Homo sapiens: one gene and its partner. The protein of the gene in region 1 interacts with the protein of each later gene in a pairwise test. Each region holds a gene or a part of one and is shown in the gene's direction. Other genes may lie near its edges.

Region 1 (9,553 bases):
TTATCCAGTCTATCATTGATGGGCATTTGGGTTAATTCCAAGTCTTTGCTATTGTAAATATTGCTGCAATAAACCTACATGTGCATGTGTCTTTATTTTAGAATGATTTATAATCCTTTGGGAATATACCCAGTAATGGGATTGCTGGGTCAAATGGTATTTCTGATTCTAGATCCTTCAGGAACCACCACACTATCTTCCACAATGGTTGAACTAATTTACACTCCCACCAACAGTGTAAAAGCTTTCTTATTTCTTCACAGCCTTGCCAGCATCTATTGTTTCTTGACTTTTTAATAATCACCATTCTGGCATGTGATGTTATCTCATTGTGGTTTTGATTTGCATTTCTCTAATGATCAGTGATGATGAGGCTTTTTTCATATGCTTGAAAACAAAACATTTTTAAAAGTCTAGCTAGATACTCTTGTCCCTCCCAAGCTTCTGAGCCTAAGATCCGTGGTATCTTTGTTGAAAAATAGAAGTTAGCAAGCATTAGGTATAAAAGAGACACGAGCACAAAATGGTTATTTTATCAGATTGAAAGAGAATTGAAAGGGAATAACTTTCTTACTATGTGATTCAATATTATTTAACATCTTGTCTACAGCACTGGGTACATAGTGTTATACATCCCGCTGGTGTAAGCCAAAACCATTTTCGTGGATAACTAAGCTAACTATTAGTAACGGTATGAAAAAATACAAATTAATAAAAGAACATTTCAGAAATGTAGATCCAACAATGTGTTAATAGCCAGCCAGAAAGTAGGTACTGCAGAATTGTTACAAGTCCCCCACATTATATAACCAGCTATTGAGAACAAGGAGAGAGCGGATGTAAAATTCTGAGAAGGATATTGGATAGAACCTCAGGGAAATTCTGTCATCCAAAGTCATCTTCTCCTGCCCATTTCCTTCCTGATTGTCTCCAAGGCTGGACCCAGCTTCCAAATTCCCTCTTTTTTAGTTCCCAGTCTTTGGGATGTTATTATAACATCCAAAAGCTTTTTGAAGGTGATGATCCTACCTTATGCATTCCAAAATCTGCTGTGCTTGGGGCAAGGCCTGGTAGACCTAACAGGCGCAGTAGATGTCTGTGAAATAACTGGCTGAATGTAACACAAACACCACACCAGCAGGCATGGGGCTTGCACAGAGCATGGCGGCTTCATGGTGAGGTTGCTGCAGCTTCACTCCTCTTCTGTTCAGGCCTCCTGATCCTATAAACAAGTATCCCCTAATCCCACAACGGTGGTTCCTTGGCTGCAAGGCTGTGAGGTTTTATTCAATAGGCTATGGTCCCTTGCACAGTGCTCTGTAAAAATGTATTGGGTAATTAGAATTAATACCTTTTTTGTTGACATTGCCAACTATGAAATCGGGCTTTTTCTGCCTCAGTTGCCTAAGGACTAGGCTGGGACTGGGTGGAGTTGGTCATGGGTGGAGGCTTCTCGGGTGATTTAGGGCAAGTGAGTTAACAACTTGTACCACACATGTGAGATGGAGAAGTGCGTGAGGATGTTAAAAATGATTAAACAGCACTTTGCAAACAATCACAACAACACTTTGTGGCTGACAAGTAGGATAGGGAAAGTTGAGTGTCATACAGCCCAAAGAACTGTTAAGAAAAATATTCATGGAACTAGTCAGAACTGGTAGTTCCCCATAAGCAGGTGGGTGGGTTGTAGTGGGAAGTGTCCCAGATCAGACTGGGCAGGCCTTGCTGGGGTGGTGGGGTGGGGGTGATCATGGTGGGAGGAGGAGTATTGAGGAGTGGGCACAGGTGAAACCCCATCGCGACGGCCACCATTACAACATCACCCCTTGAACCCTTAAGTTACATTAATATCTAAGCCTGACTTGGCTTTATAGTTAACAACATTGAGTATGTCTGATTACAAAAGAACAAACAATTTGGGGGCAGATGTTCTCTAACTGGTGTGAGCAGAAGTTTCACTTGTAGGGATGGATGGGTTACATGTTCAAAATACAGATCTCTAAGCCTTCATCCGGAATTTTCTGATTCAGAAGATCTAGGGTAGTGATGCTAAGCCAAGGACGATTTTGCCTACCAGGGGACATTGGGCAGTATCTGGAGACAGTTTGCATTGTCACAACGGAAGCCTGGGATGTTCCTAAACATCCTACATTGAACAGGACAGCCCCTCCTAACAAAGAATTATCAGACCTTCAATGTCAATAGGGCCTGGGTTAGAAAATCTTGCTCTAGGGCAAGGACCAGGTACGTGCATCTTAACAAGGGCCTCAGGAGATTTTAATGCGGAAGCAGAAGCCTTACACGGTGTCTTTTTGATACAAGGGCTTCAGTATCAGAGTTCCCTTTTTGCCTACCCGTTTGTTATATGTAAGACTCAGCTTTGACTTACCTCTTCCCTTGAAGCCCCGCCTGGTAACCATCCTTCCTTTCGCCAAGTTCAGGGTAATCACTCCTCCTAAGAACACCTTCACCACATACTTATAACCAACTGATCTTTGGCAAAGCATATAAAAACATAAGTTGGGAAAAGGTCTATTCCAGTGTTCTCCAGCCTTTTTTTCACCAGGGACTGGTTTCATGGAAGACAATTTTTCCATGGACCAGGGCAGGGTGGATGGTTTTGGGATAAAACTGTTTGACCTCAGATCATTAGGCATTAGATTCTCATAAGGAGTGTGCAACCTAGATCCCTTGCATTCACAGTTTACAATAGAGTTAGAGCTCCCATGAGAGTCTAATGCCCCTGCTGAAGTGACAGAGCTCAAATGGTAATGCTTGCTTACCCCTACCTGCTCACCTCCTTCTGTGCCACCTAGTTCCTTACAGGCCATGGACAGGTGCTAGTCCATGGTTCAGGGGTTCGGGACCCCTGCCCTATTCAATAAATGGTGCTGGGAAAATTGGATAGCCACATGTAGAAGAATGAAACTATCCCTGTCTCTGACCATATATAAAAATTAACTCAAGATGGATTAAAGACTTTAAACATAAGACCTGACACCATAAATATTCTAGAAGAAAACCTAAGAAAAACTCTTCTGGACATTGGCTTAGGCAAAGAATTTCTGACTAAGCCCTCAAAAGCAAATGCAACAAAAATAAATAAATAAATGGAGCCTAATTAAACTAAAAAAATTCTACCCAGTAAAAGAAACAATCATCAGAGCAAACAGACAACCTACAGAATGGGTGAAAATATTTGCAAACTATGCATCTGACAAAGGACTAATATCCAGAATCTACAAGGAACTCAAACAAATCAGCAAGAAAAAAAAAAAAATAATCTCATTAAAAAGTGGACAAATGACGTGAATAGACATTTCTCAAAAGGAGACAGACAAATGGCCAACAAACATAATGAAAAAATGCTGAACATCAATAATCACAGGGTAAATGCAAATTAAAACTGCAGTGAGATAGCACCTTACCCTAGCCAGAATGGCCATTATTAAAAAGTCAAAAAACAACAGATATTGGTGTGGATGTGGGGAAAAGGGAACTTTTATACCCACTGCTGGTGTGAATGTAAATTAGTACAATCTCTATGGAGAACAGTATGGAGATTTCTCAAGGAATTAAAAGTAGATCTACCATTTGATCCAGCAACCCCACTACTGGGTATCTACCCAAAGGAAAAAAAGTCATTATGTCAAAAAGACACCTGCAGGCGTATATTCATTGCAGCACAATTGCAAAGATATGAAATCAACATAAGTGCCCATCAACTGATTATTGTATAAAGAAAATGTGGTATATATATCTATATATGTGTATTTGTGTATATATATGTGTGTTTGTGTGTATATACACACATATATATACACCGTGGAATACTACTCAGCCATAGTAAAGAACAAAATAATGTCTTTCACAGCAACTTGGATAGAGCTGGAGGCCGTTATTCTAGGTGAAGTAACTCAGGATCAAAAACCAAATACCACACGTTCTTGGTTATAAGTGGGAGCTAATGCATGGGTATGCAAAGGCATATGGAAAGATATCATGGACATTGGCAACTCAGAAGCGAGGAGTATGGGAAGGGGGTGAGGACTGAAAAACTACCTATTGGGTACGATGTACACTACTCGGGTGACGGGTGCACTGAAATCCCAGACTTCACCACTATGCAATTCATCCATGTAACCGAAAACCACTTTTACCCCTAAAGCTATTGAAATAAAAAAAATAATAAAGCAAAAAAAAACACCTCTAGTCCCAGCCTGCATCAAATGCCCTCAGTTGCTTTGCCCTCTCACTGGAAGGAGCACTCCTTGAGGGCATGGTCTAGGTTCACCTTGTTCACAGACTTGCCCCCAACACCTCAAAAGGTGCCTGGCCGATAGCAGAACTCAATAATCACATGTTTGTTTCAATCTCTCTGTGCTCAAATGCCATATCCTACATTGAATCTAGAGCCACCCACCCCCTTTTAGACACTATTACAGCACTCAGCTTAACGTCTTCATGGAGCGAATCACTCAAAGTATCCTGTTTATTTGCTTGCTTACTTTTCATTCATTCAACAAATATTTTACTGGGCACTTATTATATGTCTTGTGCTTTGCCAGCACTTGGGGATATAAGAGAACAAAGAGGCAAAAATCCTTCCTTCCATTGGAGCTTACATTCAAGAGGGGAACTTGTACAATCAACAGAATAGAAAACTGTCTATAACCTGTGTGACACTCACTGATCAGCTCACTGGGGAATAACAAAATGGAGAAATGGGGCAGGGAGTGTGTGTGTGTGTGTGTGTGTGTATTTTAGGTGAGGTAGACCTTTGGGAAAAGGGGACATTTAAGCAAAGATTGGATAGCTGGGGGGCACTTGTCTGCACTCCCCCATTAGAATATAAATACCAACATGGCCACCACCTTCCCTTTCTCTGTGGCCTCTGTGTCTCCAGAATAGGCACATAGTAGATGCTCAATAAACATTCTTCAAAGGAAACAAAAAGAGGAGTATATGATTAGACCTTAAAGTAGACAGAAGGGAGATTTTTGTTTTTGTGACCACCCATTGATTAGCGAGAAAGTGGGAGGGACAGGGGCACTAAATTGAAGGGGTCGTGGGGAGCACATTTTGGTGGGGGCAGGTTAAGACTTACAGGATGGAGATCCTCACTGGATAAGGTCCCCTCCCCCTTCCCAGCCCCGAGCAAACCTAAGTTCTCCCTCTCCTAAGATTGTGCATGGTCCCTGCTGGTCAGCCAACCTGGCCCCCCTGAATCTCCCTCCACAGCCTCCCAGCTTCAGAGTTCAGCCATCATCACACTGCCTCCTTTTCTCCCGCACCCCTTCCCTCCTCACCTCCTTTCCTCCCGCCCCCGCCCCTTCCGCCTCCCGGAGGGGTGTCCCCGCGCCCGGTGGGCACGCCCTCGCCCCGGCGGAGAGGGCGCACAGAGGGGCCTGGGCCGGCGCGCCGGGGCCCCCGCCCCCAGCCCCTCTCCCCTGCGGGACGCTGTCCCTTTAATAGGCTCCCGCTGCCTGGCGCTCTGCGGCTGGGGAGTAAATTTCTCCCTGTCATCAGGTCGCGGGGAGAGGAGGAGGAGGAGGAGTTTGTTAATGTTCAGTTTGTTCAGCGGGATCGATGTTTGCTGGCATCGCCTCGCCCTGTCTTGTGTGTGTGTGCGAGGGTGTGTGTGTGTGTTTGTGTGTGTGTGCATATGTGGGGGGTGTGAGTGTGTGTGTGCGAGGAAGCGGGGGTGCGTGCGCGTGTGAGTGCGTGTGTGAGTGTCTGTGTGTGTGTCTGTGTGTGTGTGTGAGTGAGTGAATTCCAGATTTTCTGTCTTTCCAAAACCCGCTCCTGTCCTCTCGCATATCACTCACAGACGGGGATCTGACAGCAGCCACAAACCTACAGTGAGTGATCGCTCTCCCCCCGGCACGAATCCGCCATAGAGATCGGCGAGGAGGAGGAGGAGGAGGAGGAAGAAAAGAAGGAGGAGGTGGAGGAGGAGGTGGAGGAGGAGGAGGAGGAGGGAAAGAGGAGAAGGAAGAAGAAGAAAAAGAAGAAACCCACTACCTTCCCAGGATTGCCTTTTTTTTTTCCTTATCTTTACGCGCGAGTGTGCCTGTGGCGCGTGTGCGCCCCTCGTCCCTTCCATCCGAACCCGGGCTTGGATGTTTAATAAAGAAATCAAGTGTCTCAACAGTCACCAAAAAAAAAAAAAACCGCAAAAACAAAACCAAAAAAATTCCAAAAGCAAAAACAAAAAAGAGAGAGGAAAAAAAATTCAAAATAAACAAACAAACAAACAAGGCAGAACCAACCTCTACTTCAAAGCAGCCGGCACAAGCCACCCGTGTCTGCCACCCAGAGAGGGGGGTCTCTGGCCCGTGGTGGAGGAGTTGCAGGGGGGATCGTCAGGGGGACAGAGGCCGAGTGACGTCCTAGGAGCCACCGGGCAAGAGGCGGAGGAGACCCAGAGAGGCCAGAGAGACAGCGGGCCCCAGCGCGCGGCTCGGGGCTGGGGCGCCAGAAGTGGGACTGGAGCGAAGTAGAGGATGCCGAGGAGAAAACAGCAGGCACCCAAGCGGGCGGCAGGTAAGAGAAACGGCTCCGCTTCGGGGCTGCCCTGTGCGCCGAGCTCCTCGCCCGCCCTCCTTGCCCCTGGGTGCCCGGGGGCACCACCCACTTAAGCTTTCGGGGGAGTTTGCGCCGGGTGCCCTTCTAATAACCCCGTCCTCTCTCGCCTTCTCTGGTCTCCCAAATCCTCCCCTTCCAAGCTCCGGTTGGGTTGGGGTGAGCTATCCCACCAAGCCTTTCCTCCTTAAACTTTCTTTCCTCCACCCTCTACCCCACCCCTAACTTTCTTCCAGTCTGTTTCTTGCCTCTCGGGCCAAAGTCGGATTGAGGATTTGGGGTGCGGAGTAGGGAGACAGCCCCTCCACCCCTGCATCCCTCTGCGTGGTCAGTGCCAGTGGCTTTTGGCCTCCAGGGATAGCGTCTCCTCTCACTGGGGCTTGGGGCGCTGAAGTGTGAGGCATACCTAACACTCGGGCTGCAGGCAGGCTTTGGGGCCAGCAATAGGAGTTTAGCGTTGATCACCAAGGTGGACAAAATGCCCCCAGGAAATGGATGACTCTTTGCATATATTTTCTAAAAGGATCCATATTTGGAAATGTAATTAACAATTTCCCTATTCTTTAAAAAAACCAAAAAGGGTTGTAGGGGGGAAATTCCCCATAGAAATTTAAACAGCTCTGGATTTTCTTTGCCTAGAGAGTTGCAAACTTTGTGAAATGATTCGTACTGTAAAAACTATCCCATCTGAATCCTTACTGCCCCCTAAAAAAGATAAGAACAGGTTAATGGATCAGTACAATAGACCTTCTAAAGTTTTTTTTTCTTTTGGGTTGCTTAATTGCTTTTTTAATAGTATGCTGGGGTTTTGTTTCTCGGAAATGTAATATGAAAGTTCATTTTTCTTCTGCCAGACCCACCCACTGAAAAATCAGCTTTCCACTTGATTGCTAGTTTTGATTTGACATTTGATTGATCACCTGTCATCTCGCTGCCTTTGATCTATTCATTCTTGATATATATCAATAAATCACTCACCATGGTAACTCAGAGTGCCAGTGACGCAAACCTTGCCCTCTATATTCAGAGCCAGACATGCACAATTATTATCTTGTTTGGCTTTTAATGTGGGCGTTTTTATTTCTTTGTGTCCTTTAGTTGAATCAGGGCTTTCGCAAAAAGCTTAAGTTTAGTTGTTTTTTCCTCTCTCTCTGTCTTTACCCTCTTGATTTAGGCAACATTAGGTAAGACTGGTCTTCTGCAGACCCACCTCCACATTTCATTCTGTTCCAACTCTAGCAAAACATAGGGAGAAGTTTGGTGGAACACTTTCATAAACTTTGCAAAGTCACCCTTAGAACAAATCCAAAGTTAGTTAGGAATCTGAGGAGAGTGGGCATCCCTTGTCTGAATGTGTTGAACCACCAAGCTCATCCTCCTTCCTCGCCTGAGTGTTTCAAAATATCCACAATTATCATTCCTTCTGAGCACAGAATTGCTTCCCTATTTGTAAGTTGGTTCAAGTGGCATGCAGAAATATTGATAAAGCGTGGATTCATATATTTTCTGATCGTTTCCCTAAAAGCAAAATAATTAAAATATTTTTAGTGAGGTACGTATTTGGAACTTGCCTCATCAGTGAGGTTTTCTTTTTTCAACTCTAGTTACTTCTTTGGAAAACAATGTCTCTTTCCTACCGTTGTCTCTTTCTGCATTTAACTCACTGATTTCCTAAAACTTAGGCTGCTTTGCAATCTGACAGCGTGTGGATGTGTTCAATGGCCTTTGAGACCCAGGAACAGTGAGCCTGCTGCATCTAGTTCTGGCAACATAAGTTTAAGTGTAGCTACATTATTAGAGATAACGTCCTTATTGTTGTCCCGAAAGAGAACCCTGGGCTACGGTCCAGCAAGAAGTGATACTGCCCTGAAAATTACTCTTTTTTTTTTTCTGGTTGTTCCGGTAAAGACTATCAACAACTAGGCAGTAATTTAAATTACCAGAATGACTGGACATGTCTCCTTTAGTAAGCTCATTACAAAAAGTGCATTGCTCAGAATTGCTCGACTTTGATTATAATTATCCTACGATCGATAAGGATCCAGGTGTACGTAACATAACACTGTATCACATTATTTAAATCAGGTCCTTTTCATTAAGCTGTGTCTGTTGGTGCTGGCTAGTTTATTGGTGTGTGTGGGTGTGTGGGGGTGTGTGTGTGTGTGTGTTAGAAACTTGTAACTATAGTTTCAGTTTTCTGGCCTATTATATTCCTACTGTCTTTGTATGTTTGTTTTGTATGATTCTTATTATTTTCACCAGAAGCGGAAACCCTTTTTAAGCTGAAAAAGGATGATTCATTTCGTACACAGTGAGGGCCCTCTTACCTTATTTATTTGCTCACATATTAATAGAGGAGACAGTTTTTCATGCAGTGTTTCTTCTGTTCATCTAAGGTCATCAATGCCCTACTCTATTTCAGCTGAAGTGGTTATTCACAAGTAAAGTTAGCCACTTTGGGGTTCTGTAGTCAGTTAACATCCAGGGAAGGGGAGAAGGTGGGTTCTAAGATTATGGCCATACTAACTTTTATCACTGCTTAAAATTAAACACAATGCACAACTGTAAGTAATTACACCCAAGGACTGATGTTGAAAGCTTGATTTCTAGCTTGATTAATGAATAATGGGAGATAGAAAAAGCCTGTGAGTGGATCCGAGCTGAGGCTCTCCCGGAGCGCTCTTTTTCCCAAGAACTGTTCCAGGCAATTTGATTCCTTTGTATTATTAGTTATAAGTTCCATGTTTCAAGGAATCAATTACAGAACTTTCTACTAAAGCAGGTATCTAAACAGAATAAACAAGATGATATTGTAAGTGATGAGGAATTTTAGTCTTTATTTGTTATGTTCCTCCCCCTTCAGGGGGAAGGGATGTGAGGGGACAATTCTCTTTAAGGAAACAGCTAAATCAGAGTATTTCCCTCTGAAATGTCATTCTTCCTGGCTTTCTTAAGCTATGCTATTCCA
Region 2 (7,836 bases), on another chromosome or scaffold:
CCCACTAGCCTGCCTCTGGTACATATCCTTACTTTTGAACTCTCTACTCTCTTGTATACCAGAGAAGCAGATGACACGAAGGAGCAGATTGAGAAGAAATGCCAGGCCCTCAGTGCTGCAGACCCTGGCTCAGATCTGTTCAGTGTTCAGGCTCTTCAGCGACGGCATGAGGGCTTTGAAAGGGACCTCGTACCCCTGGGAGATAAGGTGAGACAAGTCCTTCAAAGCTTTTCCAACACTTTCCAGTCTATATTTAGCCGTATACCAATGCCCTCTTCTTTGGTTCTCTTTTTCAGTCTTTTATTCTTATATTTCTCTCTGTTCTGTGCCATATTTATTCTTGTACACTGTCCCTAAGGCAAGACCATGAAAAGGATATGCCCCATGACCATTAACATGGGGAAAAAACTTGTTAAACTCCTGCTGTCTGAGTGAGCACCCTATATCCCCTTGCCTCTTTGGTGGGTTACAAGTGACCAGATCTTGTGGCAGCTAGGTGGAGGCCAGTAGCCCAGAAGAAATAGCAAATGTCCATACCCAGGATGATCAGGCCAATATCTGAGTATGGTGCATGTTTTTCTTAGCAAGGAATTGAATGAGTTGTTTAACTCTGTTTCAACCCAAAAGTGTACTCTGGAGCTTGTCAGATATACTCAGAGGCTTGGCATTATCATGCAGAGCAAAAAGAAGCTCCTCACATGAAGAATCAAGACCCTTGGGTTTCCTAATTGAGGTTGCCACTAACCAGCAGAGTCACTTAACCACTCTTCCCCACAACTCTCTTATTTTTAAAAAGAAGTATGGTAATGCCAATTGTAACTACCTTAGGGAGTTATGTGGACTAAAAGGTTGATATTATTTTGTAAAGTATGATGACATACTTGTACATCACTGATATCTATTTGAGGAGCTGAATACTGGGACTCAGGATTCTCCTTTTGCTAAGATTCAGGTGTGTCTCTAGGCTGATTATCAGAGCTATTGTACCTCCCCAGGTGACCATACTGGGGGAGACAGCAGAGCGGCTCAGTGAGTCCCATCCAGATGCCACTGAGGACCTGCAGAGACAGAAAATGGAGCTGAATGAGGCCTGGGAAGACCTGCAGGGGCGTACAAAGGATCGTAAGGAGAGCCTAAATGAGGCCCAGAAATTCTACCTGTTCCTCAGCAAGGCCAGGTAGAGTGGGGTGGGTAACTTCCGTGTCTGGCCTCTAAGTAGACTGTCTGGGAGCAGTCTGGGTACAGATGCTGTTCACTGCTGGTTTTGGAGGGCATCACTACGTTTAAGTCTCACCTCTTGCAAGGCATAAAAAATTTCAGGTTTGAAACTAGAAGCAATAAAATACAAAGTTTGAAAGAATATGAAGCCATGTAGGCCAATTAAGTAAGCTTCTATAATGTAGAAGCTTTTTTGTTCTACTGAAGAGACAGTAGTATTCAGTCTTCTACTGTATTCAGTATTCTGTTGAATACAAATAACTATGGTAGAACATAATGAGGCCGAAAACACACATTGTAACAAACAGCAGTGGGAATTCAGAGTTGGGTAGAATAGATGATGCACTGTAGATAAAGTAACATTTTATTACACCTTATCAGTCAAACTTTTAACAGAAGAGAAAACAATTCATGTAGACTGAACTGTGCAAAAAAAGACATAATCATGAGAAAAGAATAAGCATAAGAACATGTTTGGGGAGGGGGTGGTAAGGAGAAGTAGTAAGAGATAAACTTAAAAATAATATTGGGACCAAATTCCAGAGAACTGTGAATATCTTACTAAAGTCTAGACATTATCACAATCCAAAATTCACCTCTCAAACATATACTTTGTGGAACAGTTCCCACGTTTGGCTCTATCGCATCAGTCAGCTGAGAGGAGCATTAGAGTAGAGGGTCCAGGAAGTTGTAGCTCTCAATGCAATGCTTTTCAAGAAAAAAGGAGGCAAATTTTGGCAAATGACTGTAGTTCCTCTTGGAAATCCCCTCCCCAGTTCAGCACTGGAAAGCTATAGTTTTTGACACAGTTTAAATAAATAGCACCCACACCCATTCCAATGGTGCTTCCTTCCCTTTATGAAGCTGTACTCCTCAGTATTTCAGAGTAGTGTTCCCACCCCTGAGCAACATTAACATCTTATTTTACTCCATATGATACTTTTGCTTTCAGTTTTGTTTTTTAATTGCTATTAGTGCCTATGCTCTGTTTTTTGTTTGTTTTTTGTTTTGTTTTGTTTTGTTTTTATCCATTCTTAACCTAAAGTATGAGTTCCTAGAAGGCACAGATATGCCTTTTTCACAATGTTTGGTACTTAGTAAGCACCCAATAAAACTTAGTTGCTTGAATAAATAAATTTACAAAAGAAGAGACCTCTCTTTCCTAGAGCTAAGGGTTCCTGTTGAGCAAACAAGAGTAATGACATTCTTTATGAGATGCTTAATTTATACACCATATATGCTTTAAAGTTAATGCATAGTTAAAATTTGCCTTTTAAGAAGATAGACCTTAGTTTTGCTCGTCTAACTTCCTGACTACTAAAAGGGTAGGGAAATAGACCTTGATTTAATCAACAGTGTGGAGGCCTGTGTGTGTATGTGTATGTTGGCCAAAATATGTGCTAGATTCACTTGAGAATAAAAGTAAGAGGAAAGACATGATTTCTTTGAGACTCTGTAATAAGATGTATCTTCAAACCCTAGAAACCACTTAAAAGGAACAGTAACCAACAGAAGTAATGAAATATATAACAGTCCAGGATTCCAGAGGTCTAGGTTTTATTGAAGATGTCTGCTTTTAGTTATACCACATAGGCAGATTAATTACCTTTTCTAAGGTGACTTCTTTATCTCCATAATGAAAACAAAAAATTCCCGGAATCTCTGCAGGATTACTGCAAGAATTGAAAAAGATAATAAAAGTGAAGAGGCTTTCAAATACAAGGGATTGTTATCATTAGGTGATATAATAAAAACAGCAAACGTAAGATCTGTAAAGCATATAAAGCCAGATAAAAAATGTTATTCTGGAAATGTTTTCTAGAGAATGGAAAACTGTAGGACAAACAGCACTGTAGCAAGTTGCAAGGTTTTCTTGTCAATTCCAATGTGTCTGTTTATCTAGGGATCTGCAGAACTGGATCAGTAGCATTGGTGGCATGGTATCATCACAGGAGCTGGCCGAAGACTTAACTGGCATAGAGATCTTGCTGGAGAGACATCAGGTAAAACTACAAAAGTCACAGCCACTGATCACTTGACCTGAAACCTCTACTAATTTTAAAATTTCCAATGGAGTTGGCCTCACTGATTTCTTCCCCCTTTTTCCCACAGGAGCACCGTGCTGACATGGAGGCAGAGGCTCCCACCTTCCAGGCCTTAGAGGACTTCAGTGCAGAACTTATCGACAGTGGGCACCATGCTAGCCCTGAAATTGAAAAAAAGCTTCAAGCTGTCAAGCTAGAGAGAGATGATTTGGAGAAGGCTTGGGAAAAACGCAAGAAGATCCTAGACCAGTGCCTGGAGTTGCAGGTACAGCAAATTTCCCAATTGTTAAGCAGGTTCAGTAGTCTGTTTCTCCTATGCAATTTCATATGGTCATTACAGGCTCCGTTCACTAGACTTTCCACGTTATAAACACAAAGGGAGCTCATCTCTTAATTACCTAGCATTGTACTATGCTTTCTATACCGATCATTGTCATATTCTCTGCTCTTTCTTGTTAGAAGAGCCAAACAAGATGGTGATCAGTCCTGAGCATGAGGTGGGTTGACTATCATTTGTTGATTGACTGAGGAATTGATTGGCTGATTTTTGTTGAGACTCTACTCTGTGGAGGCTCGGAGTGCCACAAAGATTAGTAAGATAGTTTCCCATTTCTTAAATAGTGAAATTAGACATATAGATAAATTTTACTAGTACAGTGAGATGATTATTAATAAACCAAAATGTACGAGTGCTTTGAGGCTAAAAAACAAGAAGTGATTAAAGCTTTTGGGGGAAGTAAGTGGTTGTGTCACAGGCTACCCTGAAGGATAACGTTTCACAAAGTCTTAAGGAAATGACCAGCCAGTATTAACAAGGTTTAAGAAATAGGAAATAGCACCCCAGGAATTGGAGGTAGCATATACAGAAACATAAAGTGTATGTTTGGAAAAGAGGAAAAGTTCCAGTACAGCTAAGATTTGTCACATGAGTGTTTCTTGGAAGATGGTAAGTACTCCTTGCAAAACCCTTTGTGTCATGATCCTGAAAGAGGTGTAACATCATTTCCTCCACACCACATGGACTATACCATACCCCTCTCATTTGATTCCTCATAGATGTTCCAGGGGAACTGTGATCAAGTTGAGAGCTGGATGGTGGCACGTGAGAATTCCCTGAGGTCAGATGACAAAAGTTCCTTAGACAGTCTGGAGGCTTTGATGAAGAAACGGGACGATTTGGACAAAGCAATCACTGCCCAGGTAATAATGACTAGTAAAGGAATTAAAATAATAATCCGTAGTAATAATAACAGAAATCCTACACATTTGTCTGGTTTTATAATTTATAAACATTTTGATTTACTTTTTTTTTTTTTGAGATGGAGTCTCATTCTGTCACCCAGGCTGGAGTGCAGTGGTGTGATCTCGGCTGACTGCAACCTCTGCCTCCCGGGTTCAAGTGATTCTCCTACCTCAGCCTCCTGAGTAGCTGGGATTACAGACACCCACCACCATGCCCAGCTAATTTTTGTACTTTTAGCAGAAACAGGATTTCACCATGTTAGCCAGGCTGGTCTCGAACTCCTGACCTCAAGTGATCTACCTACCTCGGCCTCCCAAAGTGCTGAGATTATAGGAGTGAGCCACCGTGCCCAGCCCTGATTCTTGTTTGCTTCTTACAGAAAAACTGAGGCAGGCAGGGCAGCTTGACACTTGACATTGTTTCACCCAAGTCACAGGCAGCAAGCAGACTCTCTTACTTTAAATCCAGCATTCTAAACTCTGACTTTTAGGATTGATTAAATAGTCATTTCATCATCTCACTCAATAAAGGATTCACCCTCTACAATGGTCATGAGAAGTGTCTGTTCTTTAGGGAACTCTGTACCACACAAGTAGCCCATTATTAGATGTTTCTCCTCCTATTAAGTTGAAACCCACCTCCCTGTAAGGCATATATTATTTGACCCTGAGTATATCTTCTGAATCCACAAAGGATACCTTCATTCTTTTCTAGGAGGGAGTCTGGGATTGCACCAAGAGCCTAATCTCCAAGCATCTGGGCTCTTTCCTTTTCCTTTATTTAGGAAGGGAAGATCACTGACCTAGAACATTTTGCTGAGAGCCTCATTGCTGATGAACACTATGCCAAAGAAGAGATTGCTACGCGGCTCCAACGTGTACTAGACAGGTCAGGCCTGAGTGATTGTTTTATGTGCCAAAGGAAGATATAGCAAACTGACCTTTTTGCTAGCATTGAGATGGGGGAATACTCTGGCTTCCTGTCATTTCTAGGTGACTAAAACTATCTTGACACCTATGCAGACTTTCTGACTTAGATTTATAGAATGAAAGACATGAAAGATGAAAGATACCTTAGAAATTAACTGGCTTTAGCACTGCATTTTATAATGAAAATAATAAGACTATGTGAGAAGAAAAGAGGCATGTTGGCAAATGGGAAGATTTATGGATATGGCATCAGAGCATGGGAAGGGTGGAGGAGGGCATAGAGTGATTTGGCTCCGTCCTCTAGGTGGAAGGCTCTCAAAGCACAACTGATTGATGAGCGGACAAAGCTTGGAGACTATGCCAACCTAAAACAATTCTACCGAGACCTTGAGGAGCTGGAAGAATGGATCAGTGAGATGCTGCCCACAGCCTGTGATGAATCCTACAAAGACGCCACTAACATTCAGGCAAGTTCAAAATAGGAATCTTGGAAAATTTCACCATTCCGAGCTTGTTGGTTGGATAGTCATCACCCTTGATACTTTAACACTTTCTGACTGTTGAGGCTACCATGCCTGCTCTCAGAGACTTCAGAGTCTGATGTGGAGCAGGTTCTTCAGAAGTCACCGTCACCTCAGTTATGATAGAAATATTAGCCCTTCCTTTTAAATACAATTTACCTTATCTTGTCACCATAAATAAAAAGATAATATAATTTCTGTTTCATTTTCCCTTCAGAGGAAATACCTGAAACACCAGACCTTTGCACATGAAGTCGATGGCCGATCTGAGCAGGTGCATGGCGTCATCAACCTGGGGAACTCCCTGATTGAGTGTAGCGCTTGTGATGGCAATGAAGAGGCCATGAAGGTAAAGCTCAGGATGAGTTTTGGGCTACAAAGTCACATGAAGAGGAATCATTTACTCTTTCTTTTTTTTTAATTTATTGTATTTTTTTTAATTTTATTATTATTATACTTTAAGTTTTAGGGTACATGTGCACAATGTGCAGGTTTGTTACATATGTATACATGTGCCATGTTGGTGTGCTGCACCCATTAACTTGTCATTTAGCATTAGGTATATCTCCTAATGCTATCCCTCCCTCCTCCCCCCACCCCACAACAGTCCCTGGTGTGTGATGTTCCCATTCCTGTGTCCATGTGTTCTCATTGTTCAGTTCCCACCTATGAGTGAAAACATGCGGTGTTTGGTTTTTTGTCCTTGTGATACTTTGCTGAGAATGATGGTTTCCAGTTTCATCCATGTCCCTACAAAGGACATGAACTCATCATTTTTATGGCTGTATAGAATTCCATGGTGTATATGTGCCACATTTTCTTAATCCAGTCTACCATTGTGGGACATTTGGGTTGGTTCCAAATCTTTGCTATTGTGAATAGTGCCGCAATAAACATATGTGTGCATGTGTCTTTATAGCAGCATGATTTATAATCCTTTGGGTATATACCCAGAAATGGGAAGGCTGGGTCAAATGGTGTTTCTAGTTCTGGATCCCTGAGGAATTGCCACACTGTCTTCCCCAATGGTTGAACCAGTTTACAGTCCCACCAGCAGTGTAAAAGTGTTCCTATTTCTCCACATCCTCTCCAGCACCTGTTGTTTCCTGACTTTTTAATGATCACCATTCTAACTGGTGTGAGATGGTATCTCATTGTGGTTTTGATTTGCATTTCTCTGATGACCAGTGATGATGAGCATTTTTTCATGTGTCTTTTGGCTGCATAAATGTCTTCTTTTGAGAAGTGTCTATTCATATCCTTCACCTACTTGTTGATGGGGTTGTTTGTTTTTTTCTTGTAAATGTGTTGGAGTTCATTGTAGATTCTGGATATTAGCCCTTTGTCAGATGAGTGGATTGCAAACATTTTCTCCCATTCTGTAGGTTGCCTCTTCACTCTGATGGTAGTTTCTTTTGCTGTGCAGAAGCTCTTTAGTTTAATTAGATCCCATTTGTCAATTTTGGCTTTTGTTGCCATTGCTTTTGGTGTTTTAGACATGAAGTCCTTGCCCATGCCTATGTCCTGAATGGTATTGCCTAGGTTTTCTTCTAGGGTTTTTATGGTTTTAGGTCTAACATTTAAGTCTTTAATCCATCTTGAATTAATTTTTGTATAAGGTTTAAGGAAAGGATCCAGTTTCAGCTTTCTACATATGTCTAGCCAGTTTTCCCAGCACCATTTATTAAATAGGGAATCCTTTCCCCATTGCTTGTTTTTCTCAGGTTTGTCAAAGATCAGATGGTTGTAGATAAGCAGCATTATTTCTGAGGGCTCTGTTCTGTTCCGTTGGTCTATATCTCTGTTTTGGTACCAGTACCATGCTGTTTTGGTTACTGTAGCCTTGTAGTATAGTTTGAAGTCAGGTAGCGTGATGCCTC

What was found. Proteins that work in one complex are often made in the same cells at the same time.
Region 2: the proteins of TSHZ2 (region 1) and SPTA1 interact in binary tests that used the Homo sapiens proteins (3 or more experiments, as listed by UniProt).

Annotation. Positions count from the first base shown.
Region 1 is NC_000020.11:52,966,788-52,976,340, forward strand, and holds the start of TSHZ2 (teashirt homolog 2), read left to right. Parts: upstream 1-5,570; 5' UTR 5,571-6,506; coding exon 6,507-6,546; intron 6,547-9,553. UniProt on the Homo sapiens protein: Probable transcriptional regulator involved in developmental processes. May act as a transcriptional repressor.
Region 2 is NC_000001.11:158,640,880-158,648,715, reverse strand, and holds part of SPTA1 (spectrin alpha chain, erythrocytic 1), read left to right. Parts: intron 1-62; coding exon 63-207; intron 208-995; coding exon 996-1,177; intron 1,178-3,121; coding exon 3,122-3,221; intron 3,222-3,330; coding exon 3,331-3,528; intron 3,529-4,319; coding exon 4,320-4,463; intron 4,464-5,220; coding exon of another isoform or gene 5,221-5,290; coding exon 5,291-5,394; intron 5,395-5,739; coding exon 5,740-5,902; intron 5,903-6,173; coding exon 6,174-6,305; intron 6,306-7,836.